2 separate regions of the Homo sapiens genome follow, and region 1 is linked to region 2. Evidence: fine-mapped expression QTL. Tissue or cell type: aorta. Region 2 holds a variant in brackets; the other region holds the start of a gene. All regions are shown on one strand. Distances are between the middles of the regions.

Region 1 (4,242 bases), 51 kb before region 2:
CGTAAACTTGGAACAATGCTAGGAACTGTGGAGCAATGCAAAGATGAGTCAGAGATGGTCCTTGCCCTAACAGGAAAAAACTGTAGCATTTACAAAAGGAAGCATCATTCATGTATGCCTAGTACTAACTGCAGTTTCTGGTAGCTGCTTGATACATGCAGAGTGTTTGTTCAAATCATTTGTACTATAAGGGTGGAAGAGATAAAGCTTATGTTTGAATGCAGAGATGAAAGGGGCCAGGAGTGGTGGCTCAAGCCTGTAATCCCAGCTCTTTGGGAGGCGCAAGGCAGATCCCTTGAGCCGAGGAGGTGCGGACCAGCCTGGGCAACATGGGGGAACCCTGTCTCTACAAAAAATCCTCAAAAATTAGCTGGGTGTGATGGCATGCCTGTAGTCCCAGCTACTTGGGAGGTTGAGGTAGGAGGATCACTAGAGCCTCGGAGGTCGAGGCTTCAGTAAGCCATGATCCTGCCACTGCACTCTAGCGTGGGCAAGCATATTTTAAACTCATGTTCAAATAATGATGATTGAGATATTAGTATTTCCGTTTTACAGGGTAGGCCCAGTTGTTGTGAAATGAGATGGGGCATGCATGAATGGAAAGGATATTGTAGGAAGACAGAAATGGAGAATGAAAGAAATTGATCAAAACTGTCTTTATTCTTTAAGAGTAAGAGCTGGGCGTGGTGGCTCACACCTGTAATCCCAGCACTTTGGGAGGCTGAGGTGGGCGGATCACGAGGTCAGGAATTCGAGACCAGTCTGGCCAACATAGTGAAACCCCTTCTCTACTCAAAATACAAAAAATTGGCCAAGCGTGGTGGTGGGCGCCTGTAATCCCAGCTACGCAGGAGGCTGAGGCAAGGAGAATCGCGTGAACCCGGGAGGCGGAGGTTGCAGTGAGCCGAGATTGCGCCACTGGACTCCAGCCCTGGCAACAGTGCGAGACTACGTCTCAAAAAAAAAAAAAAAATGTAAGAATAGGCCGGACACAGTGGCTCACGCCTGTAATCCCAGCACTTTGGGAGGCAGAGGCGGGCAGATCACGAGGTCAGGAGTTCGAGAGCAGCCTGGCCAACAGGGAGAAACCCCGTCTCTACTAAAAATACAAAAATTAGCTGGTGTGGTGGTGTGCACCTGTAATCCCAGCTACTGGGGAGGCTGAGGCAGGAGAATCACTTGAACCTGGGAGGTTGAAGTTGCAGTGAGTGGAGATCGTGCCATTGCACTCCAGCCTGGGCGATAGGGCGAGACTCCATCTTAAAAAAAAAAAAGTAAGAGGCCGGGCGCAGTGGCTCATGTCTCTAATCCCAGCACTTTCGGAGGCTGAGGCGGGCAGATCATCTCAGGTCAGGAGTTCCAGACCAGCCTGACTAACATGGTGAAACCCCGTTTGTCCTAAAAATACAAAAAATTAGCCGGGTGTGGTGGTGCACACCTGTAATCCCAGCTACTCAGGAGGCTGAGGCAAGAGAATCCGCTTGAACCCGGTAGGCGGAGGTTGCAGTGAGCCGAGATCGCGCCGTTGCACTCTAGCTTGGGCAAGAAGAGCGAAACTCCGTTTCCAAAAAAAAAAAAAAAAAAAAAAAGTAAGAATATACCCAGGCAGGATATTTATAGAGGAAATGCAGCAATCTAATATTTATCATTAATTAGAAAACTTTAATTTGTAATCTACCAAAACAGTGAAAACAACCAACCCTTCCCCCGCCCCCCAATACAAACCCTCCGTTGCCTACTCCAGGGACAAGAGGCGTCACCATCGCTGAGGAGCTGGTTAGGAATGTCGGCTCTCCGACCCTAGCCCAGACTTACTGAATCAGAATGTGCATTTACCACGACGACCAGGTCATTACACGCATTTTACAGTTTCAGAACCCCTGCTATAGCCTACTGTACTTCAGCGCCAATATTTTGCTGAAAAGAATTCCCAGCTGGAACTGTGGCTCCCGGAGTCTTTCACCAGATGGCAGCAGCCCACTCCTCCCTGTAGCACTCCCATTGTTCCAGGCAGGATTCAGCCGCAGGCTCCTCCGGAAGACCAGGGGCAGACGGGGCGGTGGCGGGGTCGTGCCCAGTGGGAGGGGTCGGGTCTGCCCAATGGGTTCTCCCGGGCGGGGGGCGGGGCTCTATTTCAGCAGCTCTCAGGGCCTTGGGCTCATCCCGAGTCCCGGGCTCAGTATGTGGCGCCTTCCTCGCGCGCTGTGTGTGCACGCTGCAAAGACCAGCAAGCTCTCTGGACCTTGGAGCAGGCCTGCCGCCTTCATGTCCACTCTCCTCATCAATCAGCCCCAGTATGCGTGGCTGAAAGAGCTGGGGCTCCGCGAGGAAAACGAGGGCGTGTATAATGGAAGCTGGGGAGGCCGGGGAGAGGTACGCGGGCGCTCAAGAAATCTCTGCAGCCGCCGGGGCTCGCTCGAGGAGGCCGGGCGGGCACTGACCTACCGACTCCCCGCTGGCGCTGGATGCGGTAGTAGCATGGGAGATTTTGAAGCTCCACAGTAAAAGTTTTCTCGTGTAGGGTGCCTTTAAAACAAAAACTTAGATTTTAGGTCCTTGTGTGCTATGCAGAATCGACGTCATTTTGGAGCTGTAGGGGCTAAACTTCCCGCGCATATTTAAAACATTATGGTCTACCGGGCGCGGTGGCTCACCCCTGTAATCCCAGCACTTTGGGAGGCCTAGGCGGGCGGATCACCTGAGGTAGCGAGTTCAAGACCAGCCTGACCGACATGGAGAAACCTTGTCTCTACTAAAAAAAATACAAAATAGCCGGGCGTGGTGGCGCATGCCTGTAATCCCAGCTACTAGGGAGGCTGAGGCAGGAGAATCGCTTGAACCCGGGAGGTGGAGGTCGTAGTGAGCCGAGATCGTGCCATTGCACTCCAGCCTGAGCAACAAGAGCGAAATTCCGTCTCAAAAAAAAAAAAAAAAAAAAAAATTAAAACCTTATGGTCTTGGGATCTATGGTCTTGTGAGAAATGTGGCACACTGAGCGGTGCAACTGATCTTAATTTAGAGCTTAACTCTGGCTCTTCAGCTGTGACGTGCACCGCAGGTAACGTTCTTCAGTGTAGTTTTAAGTTATCTTCCTTCCTGAATTCTTTGGGAGTTTGCAAGCTTGGACGTGCCGAAATCTTGCCATGTTGTACGTTGGGCTGTGAACTCCTTTGAGGACTGGATTTTCAGCATTTCTCCATTGCCCAGGGCTTAACACCGCGCCTGATACCCATTACTGCTCAAAACAATGTTTTATAGAATACAATGGAAAGGTAAGGTTATTATCGCCCAGATTTTTTTTTAAAAGAAAGTTTTTTATAGGAGGATGTTATGTAACAGTTAACAAACTTTGTTGGACGTTGTATATTATATAATGAACCTGCCTTGGTAGAGGGAACACGTCTTTTGGTAATCAGTGGCTGTAGGAGATACAGATAATTTTAATTGCTCCTCAGACCTCGGTGTTTCATCCTGATTTCCGTGTGGTATCTGATCATTAGGCTCTTGGAGGCCTTTTTAGCTGTGCCTTGATTTTCCCTTTCATTGTTGACCTGAGACCTCTCCAGTTGGTGTGGACACGGGACTTTCCAACAGTTTTCCTGCCTTGGCCATTTCATCTCTGAGCAGAGGGTGGGCAGAGTAAGGAAGAGAAGAAATAACTAAAACTAGTCAGTTTGGTCTGTTATTAATGGAAAAAGAGACAAAATAACTGCTTATGTTAAGGCTTTTGTTTATATGCCTAATATTGAGATGTCAGAGGCGAGTTTTGCAGAAAGGTAGTTTCTAATGTTTAAGTCAGAAATGAAAGACAACCTCTGTAGAGTGGTTTATATGTAACAGAAGTTAACCTAAGCTTTTTGAGTTTGGGTATTATATCATTTTTTCCTCTCTTGTTTTTCTTCCCCGTTTGGTCTATTCCCTTACTTCAAAAGGGATTACGTTTTCTATACATGATCATCATCCTTTTGTTTTAAGGTTATTACGACCTATTGCCCTGCTAACAACGAGCCAATAGCAAGAGTCCGACAGGTAAGAGTGTGTGTGTGTGTGTGTGTGTGTGTGTGTGTGTGTTTAATTCAAATTATACACAAGGAGTTTGTGCAGGCTTTCTTTAGAGGCAGAAGCCAGTTAGGCAGGTCAAGAATAATATAAAATCACAAATGAAGAGAATAATGTGTTTATTTTTCATTTGTCATTTAGGACTGTCTGGGGGAGACTGTCCTCTCTTGGGTGGGGGCGTGA
Region 2 (4,242 bases):
TGATTTGTTTGCAGGGGAGATATTGTGGGCTAAATGTAAAGTAAATAATCAGGTTGTTCTGGTGTCCTTTTGGTATCTTCTTTTCATTGATACCAACTATGAGCCCACATGGAAACTGCTCAGAAGATATGATATTATTTTTTATTTCTCTAGGAGGAGAAAAGCACACTGGTGGTGGCAGGGAGTCTGGCAGTGATGCCTGGAAACAGTACATGAGAAGGTCTACTTGGTAAGAAAAGGCTTTGGGAAGATAGGTTTGGGCTTAAAACCCTTGGGAATGGGCTTTTACACTTTCCTACTGTCTGTGCTGTCTTTGTGCAGTGTCATTTGATTTGATTTTTCCAGCATTCCACAGCTGTCTCCTCTAAGTATCTATTTGGTGCTATTTTTCTAGCCTTCTTGTCTAGCTTCAGCTAGTGCCCAGCACCCAACAATGAAATGGTCTCGTGCGTGGTTTCTGTATTTTTAGTAGAGTTGGGGTTTCTCCATGTTGGTCAGGCTGGTCTCGAACTCCCGACCTCAGGTGATCCACCCGCCTTGGCCTCCCAAAGTGCTGAGATTACAGGCGTGAGCCACAGCACCCGGCTAATTTTTGTATTTTTAGTAGAGATTGGGTTTCACCGTGTTGGCCAGGCTGTTGTTGAACTCCTGACCTCAGGTGATCTGCCTGCCTCGGCCTCTCAAAGTCCTGGGATTACAGGCATGAGCCACCATGCTGGGCTGTTTCTTGCACTTTTGAGGGCACACTTTTTTTTTTTTTTGAGATGGAGTCTTGCTCTGTCACCCAGGCTGGAGTGCAGTGGCCTGATCTCAGCTCACTGCAGCCTCAGCCTCCGCCTCCCAGATTCCAGCGATTCTCCTGCCTCAGCCTCCCAAGTAGCTGTCATCACAGGCCTGCACCACCATGCCAGGCTAATTTTTGCATTTTTAGTAGAGACCGGGTTTCACCATGTTGGCCAGGCTGGTCTTGAACTCCTGACCTCAGGTGATCCACGCCTGCAGTGGCTCATGCCTGTAATCCAAGCAGTTCAGGAGGCTGAGGCAGGTGGATCATTTGAGGTCAGGAGTTCAAGACCAGCCTGGCCAACATGGTGAAACCCCGTCTCTACTAAAAATACAAAAATTAGCCAGGCGTGGTGGTGCACAGCTAATCAGGAGGCTGAGGCAGGAGAATCGCTTGAGCCTGGGAGGCGGAGGTTGCAGTGAGCTGAGATTGTGCCATTGCACTCCAGTCTGGGTGACAGAGTGAGACCCTGTCTCAAAACAAAACAAACAAACAAACAAAAACCACCACCAACAAAAAAAACCATGTATGGTATGTCTTTCCAGATTTTTATGTTTCTGTCTTTTTTCTTTTAAATAAAACGGGATCCATACTAACATTGTCTTTTATCTTAAAGGTTTGTCTTAAAAAGTTGTAACTTGGAGATCTTGCCTTGTTAATATATACAGATCTGCTACATTTTAAAAGTGGGCATGAAAATCTTCTGTTATGTATGTACTGTCATTAATTCTGTTATTTTTTCCCACTAGTACTATCAACTACAGTAAAGACCTTCCTCTGGCCCAAGGAATCAAGTTTCAGTAAAGGTGTTTTAGATGAACATCCCTTAATTTGAGGTGTTCCAGCAGCTGTTTTTGGAGAAGACAAAGAA[A/G]ATTAAAGTTTTCCCTGAATAAATGCATTATTATGACTGTGACAGTGACTAATCCCCCTATGACCCCAAAGCCCTGATTAAATCAAGAGATTCCTTTTTTAAAAATCAAAATAAAATTGTTACAACATAGCCATAGTTACTAAAAGATGAGTTAGGTGGATTTTTATTATGTCAACTAGTTGTACATGGCTTTTTAAAAGTTAATGATTATTTTGTAATTAGAAAAAAATAGTACGTACCAGGGTAGGAATTTGGGAAAATACAGAACCGAGGAGAAAACAGAAGTCTTTGCAGTAGATACAGGGTGTCTCCTGACCAAGTGAAGGATTCAGGGGCGGGGGGTGAATATTGCTTGACATTACCCACCTATGGCATGTGTTGGATGTCGTGTGATTGAAAGGGGGATGCATTCCCCTGTATGCTTGGACCACAGTTCAGTATTCATGTGGAATAACTTGCAGTGCTTAAAATGACAACAGGCATTCATCACAGTTATGGCTCTTGCTTATGAAGGCTGTGTCAACTTGGAAGAGATTTCTGGGGTAGACAGATTTTGTTCCTGTGCTGGAGTCTGCCACCTGCTGGAGGACTCTGAGGCCAAAATTGCCCGTGCAGAGTTGTATAGAAAATGCGTCTGGAGGCTGGGCAAGGTGGCTTACGCCTATAATCCCAGCACTTTGAGAGGCCGAGGCGGGTGGATCAGTAGAGGCTAGGAGTTTGAGACCAGCCTGGCCGATATCGTGAAACCCCGTCTTTACCAAAAAATACAAAAATTAGCCCAGTGTGGTGGCAGGCACCTGTAATCCCAGCTATTAGGGAGGCTGAGGCAGGAGAATTGTGTGAACCCAGGAGGCAGAGGTTGCAGTGAGCCTAGATTGTGCCACTGCCTGGGCAACAGTGAGATCCTGTCTACAAAAAAAAAAAAAAAAAAAAGTGCATCTGGATTTTTTTATACAACCTTAGACCACCTTCTTTAGCTTTAGGCGTCTGCGGTTGCCCTTGGATCTGTTCTCAATCCTCAGTGTGTGTGGCAGCATGTGGTCATAGAGAGCTGGGCAAAGTTCACTTTCTCTTTGCTGACAGTCTCACCTTTTCTCACTGGGAAGCTGCACAGGAGCCTTTGGGCTGGTTCAGCCCAGAGGCCCCTGTTCTCCTGCCTTCCTGGCATTCTCTGCTCCCCTTCTGCATGGCACCCCTCTACTCCTGCCAGGTTAGAATGGAGCAGAGGCCTTTGAACAAGATGACATTTGTAGACAACCTGATCCATCAGGATGTGGAGAGATCTGGACAAATGGCAAATAATTTGGGGTTGAATTATGGCCCAGAGAAGTAAGCAAATGAAAAACTAAACAATTATAAATGTATCTGGGAAGCAAAGGTATTCATAATATGTCCCATGGCCAGCTGCGAGCAGTATTTAACTAGACATGCTGTTGTCAATATTGAACATGAATCAAGCCAAATACTGATATAGCTATTGAGAGAAGGTTGGCAGGAAGAAATCATGGGTGAGGGTATGTGGGAGTGATAATCTTAGCTATAGATTTTAGGTAAAACTGATTCTGAAAGCTTTCTTTGAAACAAATTTATAATTTTTCTTCTACATGTTTCTAGCACAAGGACTCAATTTTTTTTGGTTATAATGTTCATTAAAACATATGCCTTCAATTTGTTCCTCTTTGTTCTTTTTTGCTGATTTAGCAGATATAAATCACTTGTTAGTATTTTTAACTATCCAAGTTAAAATGTACATTTGTAAGTGTTATTACTGGTCTTATATTTGAAGGTGCAAGGGGTCTTGTGCTGCTCATTACTGGTTATCTTGAGCATTTCATAACTGCTGCCTCCTCCTAAATCCTGTGTTCCAACCGCTACTGCTGGCAATGCCCAGCCTCCATTGTGGATGCGGGGAATTGTGTTCAGCATGCTTGCTTCTGCCACGGCACTAAAGCCTAACTTGCTTAGGATCTTGCTGTACTTGGAGAGAGCATCCATTCGCTGAGCCTAGCAGCCAGGCTCTTGTGACTCCCTGGGAAGTGGGTGAAGACCTGGCTCCTGGCTGCAGCAGTGAGGAGGCAGGCCCTCCAGGTGAAGACTTCTCACAATGGAGGGAAGGCAGTTTTCTCAAAGGAAATTGAGTGCTATTATGTACTCTGCTTCCTACTTTCTCTTTCAGGGTGGGAATCTGTTAAGCCTCCTCTCTCTCTTGCTCTGCAACCACAGAACACTTCTTTTTTTTTGGTGTCTCAGTTTTGCCCACACTGGAGTGCAGTGGTGCAATAGTGGCTCACTGCAGCCTCCAACTCCTGGGCTCAATCTATCCTTCCACCTCATGCTCCCCAGTAGCTGGGACTACAGGTGCATGCCACTGTGCCCAGCTGATTATTATTTTTTTTTGTAAAGATTGGGTCATACTACATTGCTCATGCTCGTCTTGAACTTGTGGCCTCAAGCGATCCTCCTGCCTCAGCCTCTTGAGTTGTTGGGATTACAGGAGTGTGCCACCATGCCCAGCTCTGTGGAAAATTCTCTGTGGCATTCTGTCTCCTGAAAATGCTGAAGGGACCAAGAGGGCTCTGTGTCCTTC

Evidence for each region. PIP is the estimated chance that this variant, and not a neighbour inherited with it, causes the effect.
Region 1: ALDH7A1 starts here. The variant in region 2 is the best candidate, but not a certain one, in a credible set for the expression of ALDH7A1 in aorta (GTEx, PIP 0.53).

Annotation. Positions count from the first base shown.
Region 1 is chr5:126,593,138-126,597,379 of GRCh38, reverse strand. It overlaps ALDH7A1 (aldehyde dehydrogenase 7 family member A1), which reads left to right and starts at 2,161. Exons shown (of 18, transcript NM_001182.5): 1 at 2,161-2,373; 2 at 3,976-4,029. The coding sequence starts at 2,182.
Region 2 is chr5:126,542,311-126,546,552 of GRCh38, reverse strand. ALDH7A1 (aldehyde dehydrogenase 7 family member A1) reads left to right here. Exons shown (of 18, transcript NM_001182.5): 17 at 154-229; 18 at 1,534-4,242. The coding sequence ends at 1,588. Among named protein-coding and RNA genes, the nearest start is that of ALDH7A1, 51 kb to the left of the region's middle. RefSeq lists enhancers at 2,106-2,155, 2,522-2,816. The variant A/G (reference allele first, on the strand shown) is at 1,656.